5 separate regions of the Homo sapiens genome follow, and all the other regions are linked to region 1. The links come from fine-mapping of genetic effects on plasma protein levels. A gene starts in region 1. Each other region holds a variant in brackets. All regions are shown on one strand. Distances are from middle to middle. Region 1 holds the start of TACSTD2 (tumor associated calcium signal transducer 2). Region 2 has its middle 30 kb from the start of TACSTD2. Region 3 has its middle 24 kb from the start of TACSTD2. Region 4 has its middle 40 kb from the start of TACSTD2. Region 5 overlaps MYSM1 (Myb like, SWIRM and MPN domains 1).

What was found. PIP is the chance, under the fine-mapping model, that this variant and not a neighbour inherited with it causes the effect. The UK Biobank Pharma Proteomics Project read protein levels with antibody pairs (Olink). The fine-mapping took linkage between variants from a reference panel, not from the people measured, so its PIPs are less certain.
Region 2: its variant is fine-mapped to the plasma level of the TACSTD2 protein (UK Biobank, PIP above 0.99).
Region 3: its variant is fine-mapped to the plasma level of the TACSTD2 protein (UK Biobank, PIP above 0.99).
Region 4: its variant is fine-mapped to the plasma level of the TACSTD2 protein (UK Biobank, PIP above 0.99).
Region 5: its variant is fine-mapped to the plasma level of the TACSTD2 protein (UK Biobank, PIP 0.97).

What each region holds. Positions count from the first base shown.
Region 1 is chr1:58,572,704-58,579,187 of GRCh38, reverse strand. It overlaps TACSTD2 (tumor associated calcium signal transducer 2), which reads left to right and starts at 1,936. Exons shown (of 1, transcript NM_002353.3): 1 at 1,936-3,755. The coding sequence starts at 2,032. The coding sequence ends at 3,003. RefSeq lists enhancers at 1,778-2,472, 2,473-3,168, 5,019-5,108, 5,259-5,458.
Region 2 is chr1:58,604,472-58,610,955 of GRCh38, reverse strand. No RefSeq gene overlaps it. Among named protein-coding and RNA genes, the nearest start is that of TACSTD2, 30 kb to the right of the region's middle. The variant AC/C (reference allele first, on the strand shown) is at 4,373.
Region 3 is chr1:58,597,861-58,604,344 of GRCh38, reverse strand. No RefSeq gene overlaps it. Among named protein-coding and RNA genes, the nearest start is that of TACSTD2, 24 kb to the right of the region's middle. The variant T/C (reference allele first, on the strand shown) is at 2,126.
Region 4 is chr1:58,614,130-58,620,613 of GRCh38, reverse strand. No RefSeq gene overlaps it. Among named protein-coding and RNA genes, the nearest start is that of TACSTD2, 40 kb to the right of the region's middle. The variant T/C (reference allele first, on the strand shown) is at 2,147.
Region 5 is chr1:58,657,659-58,664,142 of GRCh38, reverse strand. MYSM1 (Myb like, SWIRM and MPN domains 1) reads left to right here. Exons shown (of 20, transcript NM_001085487.3): 18 at 2,632-2,737; 19 at 2,916-2,973; 20 at 3,988-6,484. The coding sequence ends at 4,146. Among named protein-coding and RNA genes, the nearest start is that of MYSM1, 39 kb to the left of the region's middle. The variant C/T (reference allele first, on the strand shown) is at 3,401.

The sequences.
Region 1 (6,484 bases):
ACAATTCCTCATGTTTGTGGATAAGAAATTGTCCCTCACGCGGATCACGAGGTCAGGAGATCGAGACCACCCTGGCTAACACGGTGAAACCCCGTCTCTACTAAAAATACCAAAAAAATTAGCCGGGCGTGGTGGCAGGCGCTTGTAGTCCCAGCTACTCAGGAGGCTGAAGCAGGAGAATGGCATGAACCCAGGAGGTGGAGCTTGCAGTGAGTTGAGATCATGCCACTGCACTCCAGCCTGGGTGACAGAGCGAGACTCCGTCTCAAAAAAAAAAAAAAAAAAAAAAAAAAAAAAAAAAATTCGCCGGGCGTGGTGGCTCATGCCTGTAATCCCAGCACTTTGGGAGGCTGAGGTGGGCGGATCACCTGAGGTCAGGAGTTTGAGACCAGCCTGACCAACATGGAGAAACCCTGTCTCTACTAAAAATACAAAAAAAAATTAGCCAGGCTTGATGGCTCATGCCTGTAATCCCAGCTACTCGGGAGGCTGACGCGGGAGACTTGCTTGAACCTGGGCGGCGGAGGTTGTGGTGAGCCGAGATCACGCCATTGCACTCCAGCCTGGGCAACAAGGGCAAAACTCCGTCTCAAAAAAAAAAAAGAAAAAAGAAATTGTCCCTCACATGTCTCTGCTTCCTCTGTCTGTCAAGGCAGAATATATTTCAATCTTCCTGCCTCAGGAATTGCGTGAAAATTAATGGGACAGAGGCCCAGCTGGCTTTCATCTGCTAAACAACACCCTTGCACGACTGGTGGTGCACATTAAATGCTGAACATATAAAATGTGCTTTGATGGAGGACCTGGGAATAATTATAGCTTGCTAATTATTGTTAATTTTACCACAGCTTTGAAACTCTAGACTTTCTCAATGACTCAAAAAGAGATTGCAACCCCTGTATGCCATGAAACTAGCCACACAGTGGCAGACAAGCAATTTCTCACAGGCTCCATTCTTTCATTATTTACATGGTTCAGCTACTTACGTGGGATACAGGAAAAGAAAAGCAACGATTTGCTGTGTTAGAATCAAATTGTACAAAAAACTCTTTACAGTCTTGCTGGCTCTTTAAGAATTTGTTCCTGTTTGTCTCTTTATAGCCAGTGCACAAATAAATATTATGTGCGTGTGTGCCTGTGTGTGTGCGCTTGTGTGAGGTACAGAAAATTAGTGTTTAACAGAACTTTTAACCCTCTGGACACCAGGATACCTGTGTTTTACCCTTGATATGGTGAGTAACAGAACTGCTTCCCTAACTTCCCTTCAGATTCTGTGTCACTTCGTGTCCACAAACACTTTATTTAAGGTCTCATCACTCCTAGGCAGGGTGCCAAAGACCCCTCTCAGAAATATGAGGAAGTTGATAGCAGTGTGACTTCAGGTCTTTAAGCCTCATCAGTACCACCTATAAAACGGGTCTGATAGTCCCTACCTGTCAGGACTGGTGTTAGGATGAGATAATGTTTGTGAACTGTAAACTATATAAACGTGTGCTACTGTGAGAACTGGACAAAGAAGAGAGGGAGTGAGAGAAATTAAGGGAGGGCTGGGGCTGGGAAAGAACGAAAAGGGAGTCGCGTATAGAGGAGAGCGCGACAGTCGCGAGCCACACTTTGCAATGAAACTCTTTAGACTTTCTGCCGGGAGAGCGGCCCAGACGCGCCAGGTCTGTAGCAGGAGGCCGCGCCGAGGGCGGGTCCCCAGAAGCCTACAGGTGAGTATCGGTTCTCCCCTTCCCGGCTTTCGGTCCGGAGGAGGCGGGAGCAGCTTCCCTGTTCTGATCCTATCGCGGGCGGCGCAGGGCCGGCTTGGCCTTCCGTGGGACGGGGAGGGGGGCGGGATGTGTCACCCAAATACCAGTGGGGACGGTCGGTGGTGGAACCAGCCGGGCAGGTCGGGTAGAGTATAAGAGCCGGAGGGAGCGGCCGGGCGGCAGACGCCTGCAGACCATCCCAGACGCCGGAGCCCGAGCCCCGACGAGTCCCCGCGCCTCATCCGCCCGCGTCCGGTCCGCGTTCCTCCGCCCCACCATGGCTCGGGGCCCCGGCCTCGCGCCGCCACCGCTGCGGCTGCCGCTGCTGCTGCTGGTGCTGGCGGCGGTGACCGGCCACACGGCCGCGCAGGACAACTGCACGTGTCCCACCAACAAGATGACCGTGTGCAGCCCCGACGGCCCCGGCGGCCGCTGCCAGTGCCGCGCGCTGGGCTCGGGCATGGCGGTCGACTGCTCCACGCTGACCTCCAAGTGTCTGCTGCTCAAGGCGCGCATGAGCGCCCCCAAGAACGCCCGCACGCTGGTGCGGCCGAGTGAGCACGCGCTCGTGGACAACGATGGCCTCTACGACCCCGACTGCGACCCCGAGGGCCGCTTCAAGGCGCGCCAGTGCAACCAGACGTCGGTGTGCTGGTGCGTGAACTCGGTGGGCGTGCGCCGCACGGACAAGGGCGACCTGAGCCTACGCTGCGATGAGCTGGTGCGCACCCACCACATCCTCATTGACCTGCGCCACCGCCCCACCGCCGGCGCCTTCAACCACTCAGACCTGGACGCCGAGCTGAGGCGGCTCTTCCGCGAGCGCTATCGGCTGCACCCCAAGTTCGTGGCGGCCGTGCACTACGAGCAGCCCACCATCCAGATCGAGCTGCGGCAGAACACGTCTCAGAAGGCCGCCGGTGACGTGGATATCGGCGATGCCGCCTACTACTTCGAGAGGGACATCAAGGGCGAGTCTCTATTCCAGGGCCGCGGCGGCCTGGACTTGCGCGTGCGCGGAGAACCCCTGCAGGTGGAGCGCACGCTCATCTATTACCTGGACGAGATTCCCCCGAAGTTCTCCATGAAGCGCCTCACCGCCGGCCTCATCGCCGTCATCGTGGTGGTCGTGGTGGCCCTCGTCGCCGGCATGGCCGTCCTGGTGATCACCAACCGGAGAAAGTCGGGGAAGTACAAGAAGGTGGAGATCAAGGAACTGGGGGAGTTGAGAAAGGAACCGAGCTTGTAGGTACCCGGCGGGGCAGGGGATGGGGTGGGGTACCGGATTTCGGTATCGTCCCAGACCCAAGTGAGTCACGCTTCCTGATTCCTCGGCGCAAAGGAGACGTTTATCCTTTCAAATTCCTGCCTTCCCCCTCCCTTTTGCGCACACACCAGGTTTAATAGATCCTGGCCTCAGGGTCTCCTTTCTTTCTCACTTCTGTCTTGAAGGAAGCATTTCTAAAATGTATCCCCTTTCGGTCCAACAACAGGAAACCTGACTGGGGCAGTGAAGGAAGGGATGGCATAGCGTTATGTGTAAAAAACAAGTATCTGTATGACAACCCGGGATCGTTTGCAAGTAACTGAATCCATTGCGACATTGTGAAGGCTTAAATGAGTTTAGATGGGAAATAGCGTTGTTATCGCCTTGGGTTTAAATTATTTGATGAGTTCCACTTGTATCATGGCCTACCCGAGGAGAAGAGGAGTTTGTTAACTGGGCCTATGTAGTAGCCTCATTTACCATCGTTTGTATTACTGACCACATATGCTTGTCACTGGGAAAGAAGCCTGTTTCAGCTGCCTGAACGCAGTTTGGATGTCTTTGAGGACAGACATTGCCCGGAAACTCAGTCTATTTATTCTTCAGCTTGCCCTTACTGCCACTGATATTGGTAATGTTCTTTTTTGTAAAATGTTTGTACATATGTTGTCTTTGATAATGTTGCTGTAATTTTTTAAAATAAAACACGAATTTAATAAAATATGGGAAAGGCACAAACCAGAAGTCGGCATTTGTGAAAAGTCCCTCCAGATTTCTATCACATTGGTCTCTAATTTCCCAAGACTTGTATTTTTTTTTTATTTCAAATTATAACACTTTTTTTTCCCCCAGAAGTGGGTGTTTCATGTTGCTACTCTGGTGTGTCCTAAGATATCCTAACTGGCCAGTGTAAATGCTATTCTTTCTAAATAAGATTATTTGGAAACTTCCTTCAAACTGCAGGAGGGTGAGCTTGAGGGAGGAAGCTAAAACTAGCTGCTTTTATGAAAAAGAGTGCCAGTCTTTGGTCATCTCTAAACAAGGCTTATCACCAATGGAGACAGAAAACTCTAGTTCAAGAGCTGTACCTCCTTTGAATCCCAGCCCTACTTTGAAATAAGTGGTACTATTTCCATTTAGCCTTTGAGCAAATCACTTAATCTCAAAGCGTTGTGGCTCTAAGATTAAACGACTTTCCCACATAATTAGAGCCAGTCTGCAGTGGGCCCTACACTTTTGCTGGGTGTGCACAGGCTGTTTTCCTAAGACTTTTACTTATTACATATATTTTTTGAGATGGAGTCTTGCTCTGTTGTCCAGGCTGCAGGGCAGTGGAGTGAGCTCAGCTCACTGCAACCTCCACCTCCTGGGTTCAAGCGATTCTCCTACCTCAGCCTCCTGAGTAACTGGGATTACAGGTGCCCACCACTATGCCCAACTAATTTTTGCATTTTTAGTAGAGATGGAGTTTCACCATGTTGGCCAGGCTGGTCTTGAACTCCTGCCCTCAGGTGATCCACCTGCGTCGGCCTCCCAAAGTGCTGGTATCATAGGTGTGAGCCACTGCACCCAGGGATTTTTACTATTAATGTGCTTTAAAGATATGTTTTACCTATTAGCTGTAAAAACTAGCCACTTGTCCCTCTTACACTTATCTCTTACTTTTCAGTCATTCACGTTCATTTATGTGTGTGACTGTGGGGTACCCCACAAGTAAACAAGTTACTACAGTAACTGAGAAACTGATACAACACTAGGTGTGTACAAAGGAAGGGAGTGGTTGGTATATCACATATTCAGCAACAGCTAAGCTAGATCCAGGACTGCAGTTTCTTCCCCTGGAATCCATTTCATGCCCCTCCTCCCATCCTGTTTCTACAGTCTATGAGGACCTCCCAAGACTGAAACACCAGTAAGAATTGGGGAGAGATAGCTCTCAGCTACTGGCTTCTCAACTTAGGGCTGTGGCTGCTATGCGCTGGTGGAGTGGATACTGTGGGATTGCCAGAGATCTCAAAGTCTGCTGCCACTCATCAAGGGAGAAACTCCTCCAGGCTCCAAACTTCCTTCCAGGGTCAAATAAGACTTACCAAGGGGAGAGGGTGGATGTGAGCAGGCTCTCCTACAGTAGGAAGGGTGGCCCAAGTACCTGAAGTTAGAACTGGCTCTCTAACAATGAGAGTGAGACTCCCCACTCTAGGTCTCACTGGGTGCTTTCCACTTCTGAGTCACTGAAGTGCTTTGACGGAAGTGACCTTGGTGATCACCTGTGACCTAACCCCGCATTTCACACATGAAAAGAGCAAGTGAATTCTCAAGATTAATGTTTCTGTAGCACAGCTGGAACCAGAAAGCCTCATTGTTTCAAGAGTCACTTTTAAAAACTCACTTGTCTGCCTGGAAAATAAAGGATCCAGTGGGCAACTGAACAAAGCAGACTCCCTGAAAAAGCCCCTTACTCCATCAGAATGTTGCTTCTGGATGATATTTAGGTTTCTGCATTAATTCAGGACTGTGACTTCTTGCACTTTATAGCATTTATAATTTGCAAAGCGTTTTCACACATATAATCTTCTTTGAGCCATTGACTTACTGGAAGTAACCCAAATGTTGACAAACCTGAGGTCAAATCTTATTCCTTTGGGTCAGGAAGTCACTTACCTCCCCTGTTTCCTCATTAGTTAAATGAAACTATAAATCCCTCTCTCGCTATTATGAATATTAAATGAAGTAATTGATATGAGCGTCTGAAACAATCTGGTGCTTAGTGAAAGTTTCATGTACTTTAAATTGTTTAGATTACATCCATGTCACATGTCAGCAAACTGAGATTTGAAAGACATTGAGTAAATTCATGAACACACACCCTGCATATACCAAATATGGGGCTTGGGACTTTTGCCTTGTGTAGCTAAGATTTTTACTGTTAATGTGCTTTAAAGATGTGTTTTACCTATTAGCTGTAAAAACTAGCCACATGTCTCCATTATACTTATTTCCTCCTGTTCCTGCTGGGTAGCCAGCAGGTTAAGATGCCTTTTTTTACTCACTTCTTCCAAGGAAGAGCCCCCTCATGCTTCTGTTCTGAAAATCAGCTTTCCTCTGCTGGGGTCGGGTCTTAAGAACCAGCTATCTTCAGGGATTGAGCAGCTGCCTCCAAGATTCCACCCACCTCCCCACCAAAAACAAACAAACAAACAAACAAAAAAATACCTTACAGTTCACTGGTTCACTGCCGAGAGCTCAGACCTGGGGCTGCCCTTGGAAGGAATGTGAGGAGCAGGTGTGGCTTGCCCAGCAAGTTGCAGCCTGCCTTCTGAGCCTCCTGAGGACACTTGACTGATTTCCTTGTGTAGGTCACCAGGGCTTTATCCATTCTGTTTCTTTTATTGAAGCATTTTTTTAAAGATCACCCATTCCTCCCTCTGCTTACAAATTTTTTGCTTACCATTTTCCAAGTGGA
Region 2 (6,484 bases), 32 kb before region 1:
GTGAGAAGGTGGTGGGCTGACAGCTTCCACTTGTTCTTTCTGGTCTCCTTCAGTTCTTCCCAGTGCAGCCCCAGCCAATGACTGAGCAAGGTTTAGGCACTTCCACCCAAAGCAGGATTCCTGTAATGGGCTCTTTCCTCTAGAGCTCCCCTTTAGGCAGAGAGGCTTTTTCTACTTGATCTACTTCACGGTTTAATGGCTTCCTCTGACCAGTCCTGCTTCTAAGAAAAGAAGTTTCTTGTGAAAGTAGAAGAAATTCCTTTCACAAGTTTACCCAAATATGCCTGTTTGTCCTAACTGCATCTCCGCATCTGCTTCTCAGTAGACAGAACTAGCAGTGTGATGTGGTTTGGCTCTGTGTCCCCACCCAAATCTCATCTTGAATTGTAATCCCCACAATCCCCATGTGTCAAGGGAGGGACAAGGTGGGAGGTGATTGAATCATGGGGGCACTTCCCCCCATGCTGTTCTCATGATAATGAGTGAGTTCTCAAGAGATCTGATGGTTTTATAGGGCAGTTTTCCCTGCTCTTGCTCACTCTCTCTCATCTGCTTCCATGTAGGACATGCCTCTTTCCCTTCCACCATGATTGTAAGTTTCCTGAGGCCTCCCCAGCCATGCAGAACTGTGAGTCAATAAAACCTCTTTTCTTCATAAATTACCCAGTCTTGAATATGTCTTTATGGCAGTGTGAAGATGAACTAATAGACAGCATCAGAACAGGATCCAATGCCTAGGTAATTTAAATGACTTTTCTATGCACCCCAACACCCATACCTCCTTTCTGTCTGTATTTTCACACCATGCTGGCATTTTTGGATTTGGAGTCCGATTTGCCTGTCTGTGATAAAATATATATAACACAGAATTTGCTATTGTAATCATTTTGAAGTGTACAATTCAGTGGTGTTAATTATAGACACCCCTCAGTATACAAGTGGGATTAATTCTAGAACTCCTCTGCCCCCAACATATATCCAAATCCTGTATACTCAAGTCCTGTAGTCAAGCCCTGTGGAACCTATATACATGAAAAGTTAGCCCTCTTTACACTTGGGTTCACATTCTGCAAATACTGTGTTTTCAATCTGCATTTGGTTGGAAAAAATCTTTCTGTAAATAGACCCATGCAATTCAAACCCATGTTGCTTAAGGGTCAGTTGTACATTCACACTGTTGTGCTACCATCCTCATGATCTGCTTCCAAAACCTTTTCATCACCTCAAATAGAAACTCTGTAATCATTAAATAATAATTGGAGTCTGATTTTTAGATACTAAAAGTAAACTGAGCTCTATCAGGACAGTAACGCTATTTTACTTATCTCCATCTATAGTATCTTAGTAGCGCCTTGCAGTTACTAGGCAAACAAGATATTGCTTATTAAACTGAAGAATTAAAAGAAAATTCCTACTGAGATAACCTGAAAAGACTTCCTGGAAGAGGTGATATTCTAATAAGATTTCAGTAGGTGGGGAGGAGGGAAGGGCATCCTATGCCAAGGGAAGAGTAGGGAGAGGGCAAACTGTTGATTGTCAACCCAAAGTCAATGTTTCCTTGCCAGAACTGCAGTTTTGTTTAGGATAGCGAAGTGCACAACTAACACATATATACACATTTTCTAGCCTCTCATTCAGATTGAGGTAGCCATTTGACTGAGTTGTGACCAATGAGGTGTAAGCAACGGACTAGTGGGGATTTCTCAGTCTGGTTGATATACCTGATACAGGTAGAGACATTTCCTTTCTTCTTCTTCCTTCTACTTTTTGTCTGGAATATAGATGTCATGGCTGAAGCAATACTAGCTGACTCACAGGCATTAGGAAGGTGCCTGGAAAAATGTGGAGTCAGTGGTCCTGACACTTTTAAGCCATGGGACTAGAAGTTCTAGAGTTCTCTCTCTCTCGCTCTCTCTCTCTCTGTGTGTGTGTGTGTGTGTACACATACATGTGTGCATATGTGTAATGCCTAACTGTAAAATGTGGTTGAGTTTTTACTTGTTTGCAGTTAATGCAAGTCCTAACTGATACAATGGTTAAAGGCAGGGAGACTTGTATCTGAGACTGAGATATCAGAGAAAGTTTGTTAAGAAAGGCTATCCAACAAAGTAAACAAGATAAAGTACCTACTGAACAATTACTATGGCCTAGAATGCCAGCTTCTATGTATTTGATGTGCTCTGGCTGTTACAGAAGATAGAGTAAAGGAAATCCCATTGAGGGTGACTTGGAAAAAGCCCCTATAGAGGTAAATAAAATAATGAAGAAAATAAATGAAGTCTTTGGGCCTGGTCAGGTACTTTTTTTCCCCTCCCTGGGAAAATAGAATTTGCCAGTGCTGAAGCCAGGAAATTTAGGGCTGGAAACCAGATTCCAGATTGGAAGTCAGAGATGCAGAAAAGAATGAAGAGACACAGAAAAGAATGCAGAAAAGAAAAAGATTAATTTGGCCAGGCACAGTGACTCATGCCTGCAATCCCAGCACTTTGGGAGGCCTAGGTGGGAGTATCACTTGAGCCCAAGAGTTTGAGGTAATACAGGGCATGGGCAATACAGGGAGACACTATTTCTGCAAAAAATAAAAAAAAATTAGCCAAACATGGTAGAATGCACCTCTGGTCCAAGCTACTTGTGGAGGTTGAGGTGAGAAGTGGGAAGATCGCTTGAACCCAGGAGATCAAGGCTGCATTGAGTCATGAGTATGCCACTGCACTCCAGCCTGGATGGCAGAGTGAGACCCTGTCAAAAAAAAAAAAAAAAAGAAGAGGAAAGAAAGAAAGAAAAGAAAGAAATATTAATTTATGGGGAATATTTTTCACTGATTGTATAAATGAACATTGGAGTGAAACATTGAAATGAAAACAACAATAATAATATGTAGAATAAAAGTACATGATGACAAGAGTATATATGTGAGGGAGCAACGGTGGAAAGCATTCTGAAGTCCCTGCATCTAGTCGTATCTGTCACATCTTAATGAACCCACAGTAAACCAAAAAGAAAACCTTGCAAGAAGCTTTTTGGTTGATGAGGGAAAGTTCTTCTTTATTGAAAAACCCAGCTAATAGGTGCAGAATGAAGGGTAGAATTAGAAAATCACTATTTTGCAAATCTTTAATGAAATAGTGGATGTAGTCAGCAATCATCAGTGACTGCAAAAAAATCATTAGGTGAAAATTGATGAGTAACTTTATAATACCATCATTACAGCTGAAACACCTGAACCCACAGATCAACCTCAACAGCACTCAAAATTGGATAATCAGGACAAGAACGGGGGAAGATGATGAATAGGAGACAGGGCTAATGTGCAGCTCCCACATGGATGGACAGAACAGTGTGTGCAGACTCACACCATGATCTTTTGCTCCAAGAACTACCACAGGAACGTACCGGGAAAACCAAAGGAATTCACAGATTTTTTGAAAGAAGTTGCACACTGCTGCAAATTCCATGAAACAGGCAAAAAAAAACTGTGAGTTCCCAAAGTGTGAGAGGAGGCAAACCTACCTCCAAACACATATCCCCACTGGGGAATCTGAAAATCCAGATCACATGAGAAGGATTTAACTTTACCTAGAGATGAAACAGATTTAGGGGGTTGCATGAAATATAAAAGTGGAAGTGGCAGTGGGAAGTACCTTGCACATATTCCCAGTATCCAGCTTGAGCCCAGGGAAGCCATCCCTGACTATATCTCACTGGGGCCCTTGGGAAAGGCAGTCAGTGGAATTGGGAAGGTGTTGTGGGATGAAGAAAGGTCCCAACTGAAATTGGTAGTGGACTGGGCACAAATTTCTTGAGTGGAGTCTGGGGGATGATCAGGTGCTGCTGGTATGAGTGAGCACAGGACCTACCACCAATGGAGTGAGCAGATGGGGAGGGATGAGGTCTGGAAGCTGTGCTGATTCTCAGCTGGGTAGCTCATGGCCTGGGGCAAGGTCTGAGCAGGGCACTGTAGTGGAAGACCAATCTCTCCAAGTGCATGGGAGCTGGATGAAGCCTCTCACTACCAGCTATCCACCACTTCCCTGGACACAGCAGAGGCAGCCATAATCCCCTCTGGAACGTAGTCCCATTGGCCTGAGAACCACCACCCACCCACCACAGTGGCCTTGGGTAGTAGCAAGCCCTACCCAAGGAGAATCTGAGTGCAGACCTGTCTAACCCTGTCCCCACCTGATGGTATTTCCCTATTCACCTTGGTAGCTGAACACAAAACATAATCATTCTTTGGAGCTTTATGGCCCCACCCATTACCTGAGAAACCAAAATACTTACCCTGGCCATCTTAGGGCAAGTTTAGAGCTCCCTACCACTATCATAGCTGGTGTTCTCTTGGAAGTGCCACCTATTGGCTGGAGGCCAACCA[AC/C]TCAGGTTATTACAGCAACTCATGACAGAATAACCCTGATCCCAGAAAGGAGAAGACAACACCTAATTCCACTGCCTGCAACATCTTGGGTAACCAGAGGTTTTGAATGTGTCCATGTGACAACTTCACTGCTAATAGAACCAGAATTCAAGAAAGCGACGATATAGGAGTTAAGAAGAAATTATTTAGGCAGAAAGCGAGGGTAAGAGAGTCTTTGGTAAGGTTTTCCTTTTAATGAAAAGCAGATCCAAAATAATCTTCTTTTCTAACAAAGAGCAGCCTGTAAAATGGAGCTGCAGACATAGACAAGCAAGCTGGAAGCTTGCATGAGTGAATGCTGGCAGCTGTGCCATTAGGAAAAGGCTACCTGAGGGCTAGGCATGTCCAACATGGTGGCTCCATCTTCCCCTTTCCTTATCAACCATGTCTACAGCAAGGAACAGACAACGTGGCGCCATTTGCATAATAAAGTAAAGACCCCATTAGCATAATAAGATTAGGGTGGGGGCCAGCTTCCCCATGCGCTATGTAAATAAATGTGCGCACCTGGTCCAACCAATCTTTGGCCCCTGTGTAAATCAGACACTGCCTCCTCAAGCCTGTCTATAAAATCCGGTGCACTGATGCAGGCCTGAAGTCCCACTCAGGCACCCCTCTGTCTCATAGGAGAGAGAGCTGTTTTCCTTTCGCTTTTTTTTGCCTATTAAACCTATGCTCTTAACCTCACTCCACATGTGTTCATGTCCTTGATTTCCTTGGCATGAGGCAACAAACCTTGTGTATTTACCCCAGACAACAATGCCACTTCAGCAAGTGCACTAAACATATCTACAACCAAGGATTCTCACAGAGTCTTATTTCACTCCCCTGCCACCTCCACTGAACAGGTGCTGGTATCCATGGCTGTAGACCTGAAGTCAGATCACATCACAGGACTTTTTTCAGACCACCAGCTCAGAGCCTCATAGCCCCACATGGTGGCCAGACCCAGAAGAGCAAAAACAATCCCTAGATCCATGTGGTGGCTAGACCCAGAAGAGCAATAACAGACGCAGAAGAGCAATAACAATCACTGCAGTCCAGCTCTCAGAAAGCTCCATCCCTTGGGGGAGGAAGAGAGCACCATATCAAGGGATCATCCCATGGGAGAAGAGAATCTGAACAGCAGACCTTGAGTTTCAGACCTCTCCACTGAAATAGTCTCCCCAAATGAGAAGGAATCAGAAAAGTAATTCTGATTATATGACAAAACAGGTTTCTATAACACCCCCAAAAGGTCACACCAGCTCCCTAGCAATGGATCCAAACCAAGAAGAAATCTCTGAATTGCCAGATACAGAATTCAGAAGATTGATTATTGAGCTACTCAAGGAGATACCAGAGAAAGGTGAAAACCAACTTAAAGAAATTTTTAAAAATACAGGATGTGGATGAAAAATTCTCCAGAGAAACAGATATCATAAAGAAAAAAACAATTACAAACTTCTGGAAATGAAAGACACACTTAGAGAAATACAGAATGCACTGGAAAGTTTCAACAATAGACTAGAACAAGTAGAAAAAAGAACTTCAGAGTTCAAAGACAAGGCTTTCAAATTAACCCAATCAAACAAAGACAAAGAAAAAAGAATTAAAAAAATCAACAAAGCCTTCAAGAAATTTGGGATTATGTTAAGCAGCCAAACCAAAGAATAATTGCTGTTCCTGATGAAGAAGAGAAATCTAAAAGTTTGTAAAACTTATTTGAAGGAAAAATTAAGGAAAACTTTCCTGGCCTTGCTAGAGATCTAGACATTCAAATACAAGAAGCTCAAAGAACACCTGGGAAATTCATCACAAAAAGATTATCACCCAGGCACATAATCATCAGGTTATCTAAAGTCAAGGTGAAGGGAAGAATCTTAAGGGCTGTGAGACAAAAGCATCAGATAATCTAGAAAGGAAAACCTATCAGATTAATAGCAGACTTCTCAGCAGAAACCTTACAAGTCAGAAGCAACTGGGGTCCCATCTTTAGCCTCCTGAAACAAAATAATTGTCAACCAAGATTTTTGTATTCAGCAAAAGTAAGCTTCATAAATGAAGGAGAGATAGTCTTTTTCAGACAAACA
Region 3 (6,484 bases), 25 kb before region 1:
CTATAAAACAATAACAAAAAGGGGAAAAAAACAAGGTATCAAGGCAACAACGAACATGATGAATAGAAAAGTACCTCACATCTCAATACTAACGTTGAATATAAATGACCTAAATGCTCCACTTAAGAGAGAGAGGATGGCAGAATTGGTAAAAATCCACCAACCAAGTATCCACTGTCTTCAAGAGACTCACCTAACACATAAGGACTCAAACTTAAGGTAAAGGGTTGGAAAAAGATATTCCACACAAATGGAAACCAAAAGTGGGCAGGAGTACCTATTCTTATATCAGACAAAACAGACTTTAAAGCAACAACAGTAAAAATAGATAAAGAGTGACATTATGTAATGATAAAAGAACTAGTCCAAGAGGAAAATGTCACAATCATAAATATATATGCACCTAATACTGGAGCTCCCAAATTTATAAAACAATTACTGCTAGACCTAAGAAATGAGATAGACAGCAACACAGTAATAGTGGGGGAATTCAATACTCCACTGGCAGCACTAGATAGGTCATCAAGACAGAAGGTCAATAAAGAAACAATGGGTTTAAACTGTACTCTAGAATAAATGGACTTAAAAGATATTTATAGAACATTCTACCCAACAACTGCAGAATATACATTCTTTTCTTCAGCACTGTAACATTCTCACAGATAGACCATATGATAGGCCACAAAACAAGTCTTAATAAATTTAAGAAAATCAAAATTATATCAAGTATCCTCTCAGACCACAGTGGAATAAAACCAGAAATTAACTCCAAAAGGAATCCTCAAAACTATACAAATACATGGAAATTAAATAATCTGCTCTTGAATGATCTTTGGATAAACAATAAAATCAAGATAAAAATTAAACAAATATGGAGGCCGAGGTGGGCAGATCATGAGGTCAGGAGATCGAGACCATCCTGGCTAACACAGTGAAACTCTGTCTCTGCTAAAAAATACAAAAAATTAGCCGGGTGTGGAGGTGGGCGCCTGTAGTCCCAGCTACTCTGGAGGCTGAGGCAGGAGAATGGCGTGAACCTGGGAAGCGGAGCTTGCAGTGAGCTAAGATTGTGCCACTGCACTCCAGCCTGGGCGACAGAGCAAGACTGTCTCAAAAAAATAAATAAATAAATAAAAATAAATAAAAAATAACCATTATTTAAGCTGAACGATAATAGTGACACAACTTATCAAAACCTCTGGGATATAGCAAAAGCAGTGCTAAGAGGAAAGTCCATAGCATTAAATGCCTACATCAAAAAGTCTGAAAGAGCACAAATCGACAATCTAAGGTCATACCTCAAGGAATTAGAGAAACAAGACCAAACCAAACCCAAGCCCAGCAGAAGAAAAAAATAAAGATCAGAGCAAAACTAAATGAAATTGAAGCAAACAAGCAAACAGAAATACAAAGGATAAATGAAACAAAAAGCTGGTTCTTTAAAAAAATAAACAAAATTGATAGACCTAGTGAGATTAACCAAGAAAAGAAGAGAGAAGATCCAAGTAAGCTCAATTAGAAAGGAAACAGGAGATATTACAACTAATACCACAGAAGTACTAGGTCATTCCAGGCTACTATGAACACCTTTACATACACAAACTAGAAAATGTAGAGGAGATGGATAAATTCCTGGAAATATACAATGCTCCCAGATTAAATCAGGAGAAACAGAAACTCTGAACAGACCAATAACAAGTAGCAAGGTTGAAACAGTAATTTAAAAATTGCCAACAAAAAAAGTCTAGGATCAGATGGATTCACAGCTGAATTCCATCAGACATTCAAAGAATTGATACCAATCTTACTATTCCAAAAGATAAAGAGGAAATCCTCCCTAAATCATTTGATGAAGCCAGTATCACCATAATTCCAAAATCAGGAAAGGACATAACAAAAAAAGAAAACTACAGACCAATATCCCTGATAAACATAGATGCAAAAATCCTTAACAAAGTACTAACTAACTGAATCTAGCAGCATGTCAAAAAAAAAAAAAAATACACCATGATCAAGTGGGTTTCATACCAGGGATGCAGGGATAGTTTAACACATGCAAGTCAATAAATGTGATATATCACATAAACAGAACTAAAAACAAATACCATATGATCATTTCAATAGA[T/C]GCTGAAAAAGCATTTGACAAAAGCTAGCATCCCTTTATGATTAAAGCCCTCAGCAAAACTGGCATAGAAGGGACTTATCTCAAAATAATAAAAGCCATCTGTGAAAAACCCACAGCCAACATTATACTGAATGGGGACAAATGGAAAACTGAAACTGAAAACTGGAACAAGACAAGATTGCCCACTTTTACCACTTCTATTCAGCATAGTACTGAAAGTCCTAGCCAGAGCAATCAGACAAGAGAAAGAAATAAAGGGCATCCAGATTGGTAAAGAGGAAGTCAAACTGTCGCTGTTCACCGATGATATGATGTATACCTGGAAAACCCTAAAAACTCGTCCAAAATGCTCCTAGATCTGATATATGAATTTAGTAAAGTTTCAGGATACAAAATCAATGTACACAAATCAGTAGCACTGCTATACACCAACAACAACCAAGCTCAGGAACAAATAAAGAACTAATTCCCTTTTACAACAGCTGCAAAAAATAAAATAAAACACTTAGGAATATACCTAACCAAGTAGGTGAAAGATCTCTACAAGGAAATCTACAAAACGCTGCTGAAAGAAATCATCAATGACACAAGTAAATGGAAACACGTCCCATGCTCATGGATGGGAAGAATCAATATTGTGAAAATGACCATACTGACAAAAGCAATCTACAGATTCAATACAATTCCCATCAAAGTACCATCATCATTCTTCACAGAGCCAGGAAAAACAATCTGAAATTTCATATGGAACCAAAAGAAAGACCCGACATAGCCAAAGCAAGACTGAGCAAAAGGAAAAAATCTGGAGGCATCACATTGCTGGACTTCAAGCTATACTACAAGGCTGTGGTTACCAAAACAGTATGGTACTGGTATAAAAATAGGTACATAGACCATTGGAACAGAATACAGAATGCAGAAATAAAGCCAAATGCTTACAGCCAACTGATCTTTGACAAAGCAAACAGAAACATAAAATGGGGAAAGGGCACCCTATTCAACAAATGGTGCTGGGATAATTGGCAAGCCACATGCAGAATAATAAAACTGGATCCTCATTTCTCACCTTATACAAAAATCAGCTCAAGATGGATTGAAGACTTAAATCTAAGACCTGAAACCATAAAAATGATGAAGATGGCATTGGTAAAACTCTTCCGGATGTTGGCTTGGCAAAGAGATCATGACCAAGAATGCAAAAGCAAATGAAACAAAAACAAAAATAAATAGATAGGATCTAATTAAACTAAAAAGCTTCTGCACAGCAAAAGAAATAATCAGCAAACAGACAACCCACTGAATGGGGGAAAATATTTGCAAACTATACATCCAACAAAGGACTAATATCCAGAATCTACAGGGAACTCAAACAAATCAGCAAGAAAGAAAAACAAAAACAAATAACCCCATCAAAAAGTGGACAAATGACATGAATAGACAATTCTCAAAAGAAAATATACAAATGGCCAACAAACAGGAAAAAATGATCAACATCTTTAATTATCAGGGAAATGAAAATTAAAACCACAATGAGATATCACCTTACTCCTGCAAGAATGGCCATAATTAAAAAATCAAAAAATAATAGATGTTGGCATGAATGTGGTGAAAAGGGAACACTTTTACAATGCTGGTGGGAATGTAAACTAGTATTACTGCTATGGAAAACCGTGTGGAGATTCCTTAAAGAACTAAAAGTAGAACTACCATTGGATCCAGTAATCTCACTACTGGGTATCTACTCAGAGGAAAAGAAGTCATTATATGAAAAAGACACTTGCACACACGTTTGTAGCAGCACAATTTGCAATTGTAAATACATGGAACCAGCCTAAATGCCCATCAACCAATGGGTGGACAAAGAAAATGTGGTATATATATACACTGTGGAATATTATGCAGCCATAAAAAGGAATGAAATAATGGCATTTGCAGCAACCTGGATGGAATTGGAGACCATTATTCTAAGTGAAGTAAAACAGGAATGGAAAACCAAATATCATATGTTCTCACTTATAAGTGGGAGCTAAGCTATGAGGACACAAAGGCATAGGAATGATGGGGACTTTGGGGACTCGGGAGGAGGAGCATGAGGGATAAGACTACACATTGGGTACAGTGTACACTGCTTGGATGATAGGTGCACCAAAATCTCAGAAATTACCACTAAAGCACTTATCCATGTAACAAAAAACCACCTGTTCCCCAAAAACTATTGAAATAAAAATAAAATAAAAAAAAAAAAATTAAAAAAGAAAGCTGACAACAAGCTTTCTGCCAGAAAAAAAAAAAAATTAGACAATCAGATTTTATGTGGGTTCTAATGAGATGCTATAGAGGTATAAAGAAGCCGCCTATGAAATATTGTTGTTCCCACCCCACCTGCCAAAAACACCTTGAATCTGGATCTCTTCAAGTCTCTAGGTCTACCTACCAGTTGACAGGAAATCTAGAGGATAAAGAAATGTATTGAATGATATGACAAAGAGACAATTAGCCAAACCCAAAATGTAGGAGAATTCTACATGACAAATGACCCAGTGTATCCATCAAGGTCCCAGCAAGAAACAGATGGCACATTCAAATTAGGTAATTTGAGAAGGGCTTAGTAAAAGGACTACTTAGAAAGATTTGGGTGGGATATAGGGAAACCACAAGGCAAAAAGAGATAGCACAGGATCCCAGAGCTAATTACAACTCACGAGACATTGCCATTTTAGGGAAAAAGGAACAGGGGAGGAATAGTTACTGTAACAGAGGATACATAGTGAGAGAGAGAGGGAAGGAAGGAAAAGAGAGAACAAAAGCCATGGAGAGGGCCTCCTTATGGTGGCTGTGACCTTGGGTTGAAGGACACAACAAGGTTGCCAAGAAATATTGCACACTGATGGTTAGAATGGTGGTCACTCTCGGCTGGGCACGTGGCCTACGCCTGTAATCCCAGCACTTTGGGAGGCCAAGGCAGGTAGATCATCTGAGGTCAGGAGTTCAAGACCAGCCTGGCCAACATGGCGAAACCTTGTCTCTCCTAAAAATACAGAAAAAGAAAAAAGAATTAGCCAGGTATGGTGGCAGGCACCTGTAATCCCAGCTACTTGGGAGGCTGAGGCAGGAGAATCACTCAAACCTAGGAGGCAGAGGTTGCAGTGAGCCAAGATTGCGCCATTGCACTCCAGCCTGGGCAACAAGAGCGAAACTCCATCTTAAAAAAAAGAAAGAAAAGAATGGTGGTCACACTCTATTTGGAATAAGATAGAAGATGAAGTAAGAAAGATCTAATTTTTTACACAAATAAACTTGAGAATCTCTTAACTACCTGTTTTCAACATGGAATTGAGTATTGATACATGAGGCATATTCTGAATCCAGGACTAACACAATAGATTCCAACTGGTGTTCTTGTGTTCAGTCTCTGCCTTCCATCTCTTCTCCACTTAGTGGGCAGTGTGTTTGAAAAGTACAAATCTGGTTCTGGGGTCAAACAGCTTGAAAACCTTCAGTTGCCCTTTCAATAGAGATTTTTAGCCTGCTTAATAAGACACTCCATGATTTAGCACTTTCTTGTCCCTCCAGTCCTTCTTCCCTTAAATGGCTCTGTCCCAGACGCATGGGGGCATCCTTGGAATGCTACCAGCTTTCTTCCTAGTGGACATTCACATATGTGGTTCCTATGGTCTGTAAGTTGTTTAGGGATCAGTTATAGGAATGAGAAGCGATTCTAGTTAGATTAAGTAGTAAGGGATTTATTTATTGCAGGATATTACATGGTTCCAGAAGCAATGGCAAGCCGGGAAAATGAGACTCTAAGACAACCCCAAGAGCTGCAGGCAGATCTGGCCACCTCGGGTGCTTTTGTCTCTTCTGCCATCAGGGAGCTGGCAGCCAAATTGGGAAGCTGCCCCTGCAGCAGCTCTCTGCCAGGATCAAAAACCCACCAAAACCAGCAAACAGCCACAACCTAGAAACTGAAATACCCAGGAAGCCACCAAAATCAAGAAGTGCCTTGTGGCGGCCAGACTTCCGTCCATGAGGAGCTTACCAACCAGCAGAAGCCACAGAAGCAGGGAGGTGAGGCCACTGCAGCACCCCCATCTTCCAAATCCCGCAGGAATGCACTGACTGATGGAGCTAATTCACATTCAGAACACGTACTACAAAGAAACCCAGAAAATGTGGCTTTTAGCTTTCCAGACTAACACGGTAGAAGAAGGTTGGAGTAGATATTGAGTGCCAGTGGACGACATCTGCATAGCCTGGAACACTCTGTTCTACCTCTTCCCCTGGCCCAGTACTACTCATCCTTAGGTCTTGGGTTACACTCCACTTGCTTAAGAAGATGTTCCCTGCCTCACAGCCTGT
Region 4 (6,484 bases), 41 kb before region 1:
TAAGACTGGAAAGGATGCAGAGGTTCCCTGCCTTAGGGATGACACTGGGGTCGTGTGATAGAAAGTGAAGGACAAACCTTAGGCTGGGGAGGGGCAGGGCAATGGGAGCGGTTGGGGGCGGGTCTAATTGCTTCTGAGAACACAAGAGCTCACCTAATCCTCCCAGCAAACCTGAAAGGCCAGTATTACCTCTGTTTTTCAGAGAAGTGAAGATAATGAAATCAAACAAAACAAAACAAACAGGCGGTGGGAGGAAGTGTGTAGGATTGAGGGCTGGCGGAGGACTAGAAACAGAGTGAGAGAGTCACTGCAGATGGCCCATTTTACACTAGATGTGTCTGCACCTCTGTCCGCACAGGAGAGAAGTGGATTCTGAAAGCTGGCGGTTCTGGTGTAAAGTTGCTAATAGTGTGCCCACTTATAAGGTAAAAGGCCCGAGGCTGCCTGAGGTCCACAACTGTTGGGTGGTAGAAGAGAGGCTGGAATTCAGGCTGGCCTGATCCCTGCACCAGTGGGGTCTCTTTTTCTATGTTGTTACTAAAGGTGTTACCAGGAGCAGCAGCTTCAGCGTCCCCAGAAAGTTTGTTAAAAATGAATAATCTCAGGCTTCTCCCCAGTCCTCTTGGCCAGAATCTTCATTTTAACAAGATCCCCAGGTGGGGAGCCCTGTCCTTCACCACCTCTATGTTATCCCTCAGGTTCTCTTCCACCCAGCACTGGAGTGTGTCCCTGTCCTCACCACTTTAGCCCTGGTCCCTCCTGCAGCATGCACAATTCCCACTGCTCCTTTGATTCTGTGCCAGGCACCTGAGATTCTTGGCTTCCCTTCTTCTCCTGTCTCCACTTCAGCTGGTAAGCCCCTCAAGGGTATGAGAGTGTGGGATATTGTACGGCCCACACAGAAAAAACAATCCCTTTCATCTCTCTATTGTTGCCTGTAGACCTCATCTCTTTCTGATCTTTACAGCAACACTTCCAAGCAGATATGGTTACCAAAGTAAATGAGAGACTTGGCCAAGTTTTCAGAGCTGGTTTAGCTGAAGTGAAGGGCTCCTCCCAGTGTTTCCTTCCTTACCCCTCCCCCACAAAGGAAACCCCACTGCCAGTTTGGAGGTACTGAAACATGAGTATGGTACTTTTTTTTTTCAGAGAGCATGAAGTTATTGCAGGAATCAATCTGCTGGGATTCCCTCTGGTGGGCACATAGCCTGGTGCTTCTGGGAGAGTGGCCAGTCATGAGGCAGGCTTTCTTCCATGGCCGGGATCCCCGCTTTGGGAAAGTTAGCTCAAGCATGTGAGGCACTGAGCTCGGTAAGCTACAACTCCTGTTGTTCCCTGGGCATCAGTTTCCCCATAGGGAAAATGAAGATGTTCTGCTGGAGTTCATTGTTTCAATCTGTGGTCCGAACACCTCTGGAAGTGGGACTTTGAATCTAAACCAGCTTTGAGTTAAAGCAGAAAAGAAAAAGCAAATGAATCCATCTTGCCCTTGATTTCAAAAATAGCAGCCAGCTTGTTCCCCATTTAACATAGTAGGCTTCCTTATTAAAGTTTCTCTAAATATATATACATATATAGCCTAAAATCATTTTGAAAACCATGCGCTAAATATTCTCTGGGGTCTCTTCCAGCTAGTGCAGACTAGAATTGAGGCCTGATTCTTGTGACTTGGAATTTATTAAATGGGGCACTAGAAAAATAATTGTTGAGTGCCATCCTGTCATTTACTGAGTGACATGTCCTGATCTCTATGCTATTCTCTTTGGCCACTGTAGGGAAAACAGACCAGGGGGAATGAGTAGGACAGAAACCTCAATATCCATTCAAGACATTTTCTGTAGCAACAGAGCTGTGATTCTTAGCTGGACTCCTAGATGCCCAGAAATAGCCTGCATTTTCCAGCCTCCCAGGTAGCTAGATGTGGCTGTTAGCCAAAATTCTGACCATTGGCAGACAAGTGGAAGTGGTGGGCACAATTTGTGGGCCAGGCAGTTAAAGGAAGTGGGCATGCCTTCCTCTTCTCCAGGGCTTCCTCCCTACTGGATGGAAAGCAGACATGGGGGTGAGTAATACTGGATCCTATGAGCAGGGGAAATACCCTAAGGAGGGCGGAACCATGAAAACAGGGTGCCTGACACACAAGTCC[T/C]GGACTGCTTCCACACGGGTTGCTACATGAGTGAGAAACAAATTCCTGTCTTGTTTAAGCCACTGTTTATTTGGGTCTCTGTTAGAGTGACTAAGCTATATGTGTGCACTCACAGGCACACACAGACCATTTAATTCTGTGGACAAAAGTGGCAGCAGAGGAACCAGTCAGAAGCTTTTGAAATAGTGCAGGCAAAGATGATGGTGGCTTGAAAAAAGGTAGTAGCTTTGGAGGTGATGAGAAGCTCAGGTTCTGAAAATATTGCGAAGAGACAAGTGATGAAGTCTGACGGAATGAATGTGAGGAATTAGAAAAAGAGGAGAGTTAATTCCAAGATTTAGTAGAATGTGTTGCCAGATGGGGAAGATAGGGAAAGAACAGAGATAGGGTTGAAATCAGGAGTTCATTTTGGACACTAAGTTTGAAATGCTGAATAGACATCTAAGCGTTGCTTGGGCATTTAGGGTTCAGGCATCAAGATTTTGGAGAAGAAGAAATTAAATATAAAAACAAACACTACTTTAATGGCCATTAGACTCAATTCTACTCTCAGACATCTTAGGCAAAAATGAGGGGAATGAAACAGAGTTCCACATGAAAATCTAATTAAACTGCTGCCTTGTGATTTTCCATAATTGTGATAAGGCCTTTAATTAGCTGGCTCTACAGAGCACCGGGCACTGGGAAACCCACAAGGCAAATTACTGCTGTGCGCATCTTGGGACGCATGTCCTCACATCTGAACAGCTCAGAGTCCTCAAGCACATAATTACCCTCTGAGAAAGCTTTCCAGGATGAATGGCATTTGGGAAAGTTGGGAAGTTGGAGAACTGGATTTTCAATCCAAAAGATACAATGGAAAGAGTGATCAGAAGATCTGGCTTGGAGTCCTGGGCTCTTTACATAAGGACCTGATGATATGGGACAAGTCATCTAATAACCATCCATCCATCCACCCACCTGCCTCTCATCTGAATAGACTATCTCCAGGGTAGTTTCCTTTTTCTTGAATCTCTAGCATCTCTACACCATATGGTGCTTATTGCCCAAGTGTGATAACAGAGGAAACCACCTGGAACATAGAAATCTACAGAGCACAAAAGAAGGAAGGTAAGAAATAAAGGGGCATCTATCAGACAGGAATGGGTAACAGAAAGCTCCTTTTGTACTGGGGTTTAGGGCAGTGGAGACAGAGGGAGAAGAAAGCCCAACCTGAGGGCTGAGCTCTCTGAAGCAGGAGGTTTTATGAGTGAGATGTGGGGATAACAGGGCAGAATCATCTGTTTCTTATTTCTTAGGATCTAGCTCTGAAAAAAATCCCAACTCTCAGGTTCAGCATGGCATCATGTCCAACACAGTACAGACATAGTAAGGAGGTGCTTAGAGGCAACAGCGTAGAGGCTGCACACTAGTTTGGGCAGAGAAACAGAACATTCCTGCAAGCTCCAGTCCTGGGAACAGGAGCTAGAAGCCACAGACAGCAGGAACCTCACAACTAGAGGGTAAAGTAGGGTGAAGTCTTCAGCATCAGGGGCTATGGATAGATGGATGACACCCAGAAGACCACGGGTATTATGAATCTCTCAGTAGACATCCACTCAGAGTGCCCAGGGACCATGTTAAACCCGCCAACCCTCTGGAATTCACTGAGAACTAAGGGAACTCAGACCAGGGGTTCCACCTTCACCTGTACTCTCTTCCCCACCACCTTCTTGACCATGGAGATGCAGAAATACACACTTGTACCCAGATACAATCTTGGCAAAGAAGAAAAGGAGGAGTCTTTTGAATGAGGGGAGAAATGGTATTGATATTTTTTCAATAATCAACGCCAACATGACTGAATTCAGACTGAATTCAGTTGCAGACTGAATTCAGTTGCAAAGCAAACTGAATTGCCTTTAATTGGCAAATTTAAGGATTATTTTTCACCATCAGGAGGAATGGAGATGCAAGAGCAAAGTAGATCAGTTAATGACAAAGAAAATTGTGTTATTTTGCACATCAGAGTTTGCACATTTTAAATTCTGCTATAATTCTTTCACTTATTCATTCTTCCATTCATTTCATGAACATTTACAGAGCACTTACTTTCTTCCAGGCACTGGAGAGAGGGGGAGATGCATAAGATTTTTCTGCCCTAGAGAAGCTTAGAGATTGGGTTAGGAGGCACAAGATAAGAAGTGTTGCAATAGAGGTGCCAGTCCAGGTGGCTGAGAGAGCCCAGAGGAACAACAAAGGGCCCTCATCCCAGCCTGGGCGGACGGTCAGGGAAGACTTGCTGGAGGAGTTGGTGCCTACCCTGAGTCTTTAGGATGAGTAGGAGTTAACCAAGTGGAAAAAGACAGTCAGAAGTGGTGGCATTTATTCCTGTGTTTATTCATTCATTAATTCACTTAACTAGTATTTGTTAGATACCTACTATAAATACAGAAATAAATAAATAACCTATAAATAAATACAGAAATTGATATAAGCAATGGGGATACAGCAGTGAACAAAAGAAAAATCTCTGCCTTTGTGCATTTTGTATTCTAGAATGAGGAGAGAGATAGTAAGCAAACAACAGAAGAAATATGTAATATAACATCAGATAGGGAAAAGTGAAATGAAGTTGATGAAGGAGATACAGGAGATAATAGGGGGAGGTACGAAAGGGGCCATAGTTGTTATGCATAGAGTGGAGAGGGGAGGTGTTGATGAGGCAAGATATAAGTGGAAATTCATTTGAAATGAGAGACTAACACATTTGACCATCTAGAGGAACAGCATTCAAGATAAAGGGAACAGCAAATGTAAAATCTCTGAGTCTGGAATTTTTTTGGCAAGTTCAAGAAACAGCTAGGATGTTGGAGCACAGAGAATTTTTAGGATTATTCTTACAATAATCTGTATGATACTGTAATGGTGGATACATGTCATTTTACATTTGTCCAAGCCTATAGAAAATACAACACCAAGAGTAAACCCCAATGTAAATTGTGGACTTTGGGTGATAGATGTGTCAATATAGATTCATCAATTGTAACAAATATACCACTCTGACAGGGGATATTGGTAATAGGGGAGGTTGCGCATGTGTTAGGGCAGGGAGTATATGGGCAATTTCAATACTTTCCTCCCAATTTTACTGTGAACCTAAAACTGCCCTAAAAAAAATTAAGTCAAAAGAAAAGAGAAGGCCGAGCACGGTGGCTCATGCCTATAATCCCAGCACTTTGGGAGGCCCAAGTGGGCTAATCACTTGATGTCAGGAGTTCAAGACCAGCCTGGCCAACATGGCAAAACCACATCTCTACTAAAAATACAAAAAATGTAGCCGGGCGTGGTAGTGCGCACCTGTGGTCCCAGCTACTCGGGAGACTGAGGCAGGAGAATCGCTTGAACCCTGGAGGCAGAGGTTGCAGTTAGCCGAGATCATGCTACTGCACTCCAGCCTGGGTGACAAAGTCAGAATCTGTCAAAAAAAAAAAAAAAAAAAAAAAAAAAGAAAGAAAGAAAGAAAAGAAAAAAGAGAAGGAATATCTAGGAGGTCAATGGCTACAGCAGGGAGGGAGGGAAAGAGAGGTAGGGAATGAGGTTGACGTGGTATCCAGTTTAGACAGAGCCTTGCAAGCCATGATTAGGAGTCTGGATTTTATTGTGAGTCTGAGGATGCCTTGAGGCCATTGAGGTGGCAAGGCATGAGATAATTGGAAGCATTGAGAAACGTACAAATAGTCCGATATGATTTTCCTGTGAAGTTCACACTAGAGATCATAGAAAAATCAGTAGAAAAGCAAGCTGGAGGCTGAACATGAAAGGCCTAGCCAAGAAAGAGCTCTAAACTGAGAAAGTTGAGATTTATTCTGAGTGCAATGGAAGTAACTGAAAGATTTTAAGGAAACAAGTATTCAATTGACATGAGCAGATTGGGGTTTTGGAAAAATGATTTGTGGCCATTTTGGAAGACGGATTAGAAGAATAAGGAAATAGGATATGAGAGAGGAAGCAAAATAAGGGCATGGGAAACCAATCAGGCAAGATGGTGTCCTCATCCAGGTGACTGTTACAGGATGGACTGGTCCGAATGCCTGCTGCACAGTAATAGTCCAATGCACTGAGATAGCAGGGTTTGCAGTAAAGAGCTTAATGATCACAGGGCACCCACAATGAGATGGAAAGACACTCTCAAATCCTCCCCAGGAAGCTCTTGGCTGGGGTTTTTAAGGAGATCCTGGAGGGTGAGGGGCTGGAAAATTGGGGTCATTGATTGGTTAGATTGAGGGGTATAAAATCATAAGGATGTCAAAATTGCATTCTTTTGTGAGTCAGCTTCTCATGGGGTCCTTCAGACCA
Region 5 (6,484 bases), 85 kb before region 1:
GTACAATAGCAGTACGTGTGACTTTAAATGTAAGTTGATTAGAATTACATGAAATTTAAAATTTAGTTCATGGAATTCTACTCTGGCCAAAATGAAGTAAAAAGAACTTGTCTGAAACTACCAAAAAACTGGACAAAATATGTAAAATAATGGTATTTAAACACAACATTTAGCAGCAAAGGAATACGATTGCTAAGAGATGGGAAACAAATGAAAAGAGCCCCACATTACCCTAGCTTACTGCTTAAGAGGGTTTTCAGATATGGCACAAGAAGGAGAAACCCACCCAGAGCCAGGCCGACTCAATTAAGGTGATGGAGATAAGGAGACCAAGACAGCTGAGTTTGTGAGACAGAGCCCCAAGAGAACAGAAAGCAGAATGGAGAGTGAACTCTGGAGATTTGTAGAAGAGTATCCCTGGAGTATTTAGCAAAGTACAGATCAGCACATGTATGTGAATAAACTAGCCCAGATGGGAAAGAACTACTTGAAAGCATTAGAGGGAACTATCCATGATGCTCCCATGAGCTACCATTGGACAGAGCTGTCTTGTAAATGACTTGTCCATGCTTAACACTGCGTATTAGATCTTAATCCTAGGTCTTTTGCTTTGCCCTTAGAAATCCTCTGGTGCAAGAATTAAGGTTTTCTAGAAGCCATGGGATACCTTGTGCTACAGTACTTTTAACTCAGGTCATATCTTTACAATATCTCTAATGGTTTAATGTTTTCTTTACTTGTGACAGGCAGGAAATATATTTAGTGATCAGTTTTCTTCTGATATTTTAGTGGATAAAAATATTCTCTATAAAAGAAACTTATTGACTTTAAAAGTACCTTTTTTAACTTAAAAAATATTCTTAAAAATACCAAATAGACCTGTATATAATTTGTGTGTATGTTTTCATGTTTTTGCATCAGCATAGATTGAAAATGCATTATTTACCTCTCTTTATTTTCATCTTCAACTTTCATTGAGAGTAGGAGTCACTCTACTGGATTCAGATCCCAGCTCTGACATTTATTGCTTATTTTACCTTGGGCAGTCTACTCCCTCATTCTCCTTTGCTACATCTGTAAAATGAGAAAAAATTACTACCTTGCTTACAGTAGGTATATGGTTGTAAGGTGTGTCAGTAATATATGTAAAGTGTTTAGCAAATAATAGGTTTTCAGTGGGTGGTTATCATTATATAGATGGTATCCATGTTTAGTAAGTAATCAAAGCATGTCAAGTAAATGACTGTTATCACCATAAGGAGTTTGCTTAATACCCCGTGTACTATAGTGTGTCACTCTTCTTAAGTTTTTGGAGAAGAGGAAAATTGAGCAATTAAATAAAAAAGATCAGTCATCATCATCAGGCTTGCTGTCCCCTTTCCTTCCAAACACCTGAAAAAATGCCTTTTTAGAGCATATTGACATTTAAGCTATGCTTTATTTCATTGTGAGGAAATAATTGTATTTTTCCCCTTTTTTTTTTCCATGCCTTCTGATTTGCTGGCATTTTATTTATTCCTTACCATGGTAGAAACCCAGTTGAGGCAGTATTATGTATAAGTTAAAAGCAGAACTCTCGAGCCTGACTGCCTGGGTTCAAATCCTGCCAATGCCTTTTATATCTGATCATGAGCAGGTTAACCTTTCTATGACGTAGTGTCCTCATCGAAAAAAAAAAAAGGGGGGGGTGAATAATGGCAGCTACTTCATTTAAGTGATTTCACATTAAGTTTTAGGTGGCACATAGTATGCATTATAAGTGTTACTATGATGGTATCAGCCTTTGCTAGTGAATCAGCTGAGCTTTTAAAAAAATGCTATAGATGCATTTGCATGGGGGTCTTGAAGGATATGTGAAAAATTGCTAAGATAACTCATCGTTTGGTATTTTTTCCTTTCTAGATGAATATATGATGTTCACCCCTTGGGCTTCTTTCTTTCCTCCAGAGTTTAGTATAACAACTTTGACTCAAAGCAGTTGCTGCCTCCCCAGAGTTCATCCTATCCTCTTGTCTAGTCTTAGATTAGCTCTTCTAGGGAGGTGGAATGAGTTTGGGCTCAGAAGTGAGGCAAACCTGCTGGGTTTTAACATCTGTGTCCTGCCACTTTGCTAGCCTAAATATGATTTTTAATGTATCTCAGCTTCAGTTTTCTCACCTGTTAAAAAAAAAACAATAACTTACAGCATTGTTGTAAGCTTAATAACCTGTATATATATATATTTTTAATTATCACTAGGATGGCAATATGTCTTAGTTTGTCTAGGATAATCCCACTTTAAACCTGCGGTTCAGGCATAATTATTAATAGTACCTTCTTTCATTCAAAAAGTCTCTTGGTTTAGGTGATAAATTACGTGATCATCCCATCATAGTGCCATGCGTAGAATTGTCATGTAAATGGCACTTTTACTCATTATTATTATTAATAGCTTGGCATTAATATGCTTAGTGGACCAAGTACAATCGGGCAATAAATATTTAATGAATGCCCACTATGTTTAAAGTGCTGTTCAGCTGATCTGCAAAGCTATGGCTGTAAAAACACCGAAGGGAATTTTAAGTATAATTAAAAGGAGATTGGAGAGTTAAGAAATAGTTGATGACAATGTGCTTCTTTATGCTTTTCTAGGCTTACCTTACAAATTTGAAGTACAGCAGATGTTAGAAGAACCTCAGTGGGGATTAGTATTTGAAAAGACAAGATGGATAATAGAAAAATACAGGCTCTCCCATAGGTATGTACTGTGGTTTGAGATGGTTGCACATCTGCAGTGTTGCTCATTAAATTATGTTTCAGAGAAAACCCAAGTTAAATATAAAATTGTGATGTATGGCATCCGTGATAGTTTATTATGAAACTGATTAGTTTATAGTATTCGTTTCACCAGTTTGTTTTCATATTTCTTCCTACAGCAGCGTCCCCATGGATAAAATCTTTCGCCGGGATTCTGACCTGACTTGTTTGCAGAAAGTAAGCTGTCTTCATTTTAATTGGTTCCATTGTTCACAGATTCTGAAGCTATTCATCTCAATGTGTTTTCCCATGATGCCTAATACTTTGTGGATAATTTTCTGTATATTTCTTTTATTACTTTTTCCTTTGGAAAATTAATTTCTAGGAGATAATTAGTAACGTTTTTTGTTGCCCAAGCTTGCACATAGAAAAAATTCTATTTTAGAATAAATTTGTCAGTGTTGGCTGATTTTAGCAGATTATTATTATACACAATGGAGAACATTTTTCTTATTTTATTAAATTTGAAAGTGCCATGTTTCCATTTTAGCCTTAACAATTGGTCATTTTTAAGAATGATGGTATAAATCTAACAATTAAATTTAAATAGTCATTTTATTTAACTTTCTAATAGGAAATAAGAGTTTTGAATTCTGTCAGTTCA[C/T]GTCTAGGTTTTGCTTCTGTAATGATTGAAGGCTAGTAGATCTGCAACATTTGTCTTTTTAAATAGCAATTGGGGATAGAAAATTTAAACATTAAGTTTCTTTTTAATATGTTTTACTCCTTTCTGTTATATCCAGTTTTTTGTGTGTTGTTGAAAAAGTATGTGCACATTTCCAAGGAAATAGACTCCAGCTAGCATCCTCATTTTGAAATGCAGAATCCTATGTTTTTATGTACCTAGATTTTTGTGTGTGTGTATACTCAGGATTATTTTGCTTTGTAAGTGTAACTACAAATGGAGAAAAGTCGCAAATACGTCCGAAGTAGAAAGCATCACATAAACAATCTCAGGTTTGTCTCCTTATGTAAAATCATAAAAGTACTAAGCTGAGTGTTCCTCAGCAGCAATTTCCTACATTCCAGCTCTGTGACTATTAAACACAAGTTAATCTTCAACCATTTTTAAGGAGAGTGTTTCTCATTTGAGCATTAGGAAATGTGAGGTCTGGAAAGGGACGAAATAGTGATAGTAATGCAAACCCTCATACTTTTTCTGTATTTAAATATAAAACTTTTCTTTTCAACTAGCTTTTGGAGTGTATGAGGAAGACTCTGAGCAAAGTGACCAATTGCTTTATGGCTGAAGAATTCTTGACTGAAATAGAAAATTTGTTCCTTTCCAATTATAAAAGCAACCAAGAGAATGGAGTAACCGAAGAGAACTGTACAAAGGAATTGTTAATGTGATTATTTTAAAGTTAAGACATTTTAATCTTGACACAGTAGATCTTACTTTCAAAGTTATAAACTTGAAGTGATTGTAGTTAACATTGGCACAGCTTTGGTATTTTTTCTCTATTTCACAAAATCCAAACTTTGCCACATAAATCATGTGAAAAGGAAGAGATACAAATTTGTTTTCATATAGTGATTATCAGAGTGTTCTGCAAACCAGGGTCCACCACGGTGTTCTAGTCCTTTACTGAGCAATGCTGTAGGCTGTGAAACTAAGCAACCTGGTCGGCTTTACTGTTGTGTTCAGCTTGGGATTTGGACTATGTCTCTAAGTCATTTCTTCCCTGAACTAGTCATTTATGTTCCATTGTGGTATCTCCTATTTCATTTAAAAGCACTTCCATTCTTTCCATATATTCTGCTGAGATTTGTTTATGGCTATAAATGAGATATGGATGGGTGGTCACTGAGATAATTAATATGGTTTAGAACTACTGATTAATAAATCTAACAGGAGACCAGGAGAGGCATGACAAGAAAATCTTAAAAACAGGAAAAACCCAAAGGAGAGAACTAAATTACCAGTTTCTAATCATAGATACTATCTTCCATTTCATTGTATAGCAGTAGTATCATAAGATATGCCATTTTCTCAGCTATCTGAAAATTTTTAACCAATTTTACACACATAAAATAATTAGCTTCAATTGTGAGTCCACTTACATTAGTAGGTGTGATAAAACCTCATTTAACTGGAACATAGGTAATCATAACTCAAACTTTTTTTCTACTGCCTACTACTAGGAGAAAGAGGCAAATGATAATAAAGCTGGAATAAATCAGAGATTTAATTTTTAAAACAAGCCTTTCAGGACATGTTACATATTCAGCCCAGTTTCATATGCTTTCTGAATCTATAATGGAGGTCAGTGAACTTTTTTAATGTAAAGGGCCAGTTTGTAAATAATTTTGGCTTTTCAGGCCACATATGATGTCTATGAGACATTCTTCTTTGTGTGTGTGTGTGTGTGTGTGTGTGTGTGTGTGTGTTTTACAGCCCTTTAAAATGATAAAAACCATTGTTAACTCACAGGCCTCATAAAACATAGGCTGTTGGCTATTATTCTCCAACCCTTGATCTAGAGAATTTTAAACATTAGAATTTTGTTTTACATTTGTTAAGCTTTACGTCATCTTCAAATGACACCAAAACTCAGAATTATGATCTGCATTTAAGCCAATTTTAAAATAAAATAAGCAGTCAATGCTGCCTCATTTATTGAAATTCAGTAGATTTTAGTTTATTTCTTAGTAGTCAGAGAATTGATTTATAGCTATTCACCAAACATTCTTACTAACGTTTCCTTATATCTAAATCAGATTGATTCTATATTTTGCTTTGTTTGTAATCAATAGCCAATGAAGAATAAGGAGTATTGGAAGAAGCAGTGAGTCAGCTTTAGGTGACCTGGTTCTTGTCTCAACTTTGTGATTTGGGGAGATACAGTTTACTTTCCCTGAGCCTTAATTCTTGTGTAACTGAAGTCTAACTTAACTTCTTAATGTCCTTCCAGAACTAAAATTTTATTGTTCATTCTAATCGTTGGACTACTCTTGTGAAGTTTATATTTTGAGTTAATACAGTTTCCAAATTAACATACATTTAAAAAAAAAAGGGTAGTATTTTTCCATTTCTCTGTGTGCACTTAGGATAAACAGTGAAGTATAGCTTATAAAACAATTAGTTTGAGGGCTGAGAGTGTAAGAGGAACTATACCAAAAGTCAGGAAACCTGAGCTCTTACCCTAACTCTGTTACCAACTTTGCTGTGTGACCTTAATCAAAACACATAACCTGGACCCCATGCTCCTCACCAGTAAATCAAGGGCCTGAATTTTATGGCTTAGTATTCCCTTCCAAGCTCCGAAGTTGCGTGATTCTGTGAAAGGCAGTGATTGATTCCTTTGTACTCATCTTCCTTTTGACCTGTTTCCTCATGATATATTGGGGAACAAATACTAAAAAGTGTTTTATACTAGCTTTCTTGATTGACATTTCCCTATAATACTGATGAATTTGGGTGATGGAAAGTAATGGAAATTGTTAAAAGTTCTGCTCTCAAATCTGAGTCTCCTTGCCCTGTGTGCCAATGTTTAACCATATTTGCTAATCTAAGCCATATTGCGAGGATCTCAAGGATGATACTTGTCAAGAGTTTGGGGCCTTGAGAGCACAGTTTTCAAAATAATACTTAGTATTTTCTGACTATAGAGTACATTTGTCTTGTAAAGTATATTTTAAAATACAGAGAAGTGTGAAGTACAAATATCTCAGTGCTACTATTTAAAAA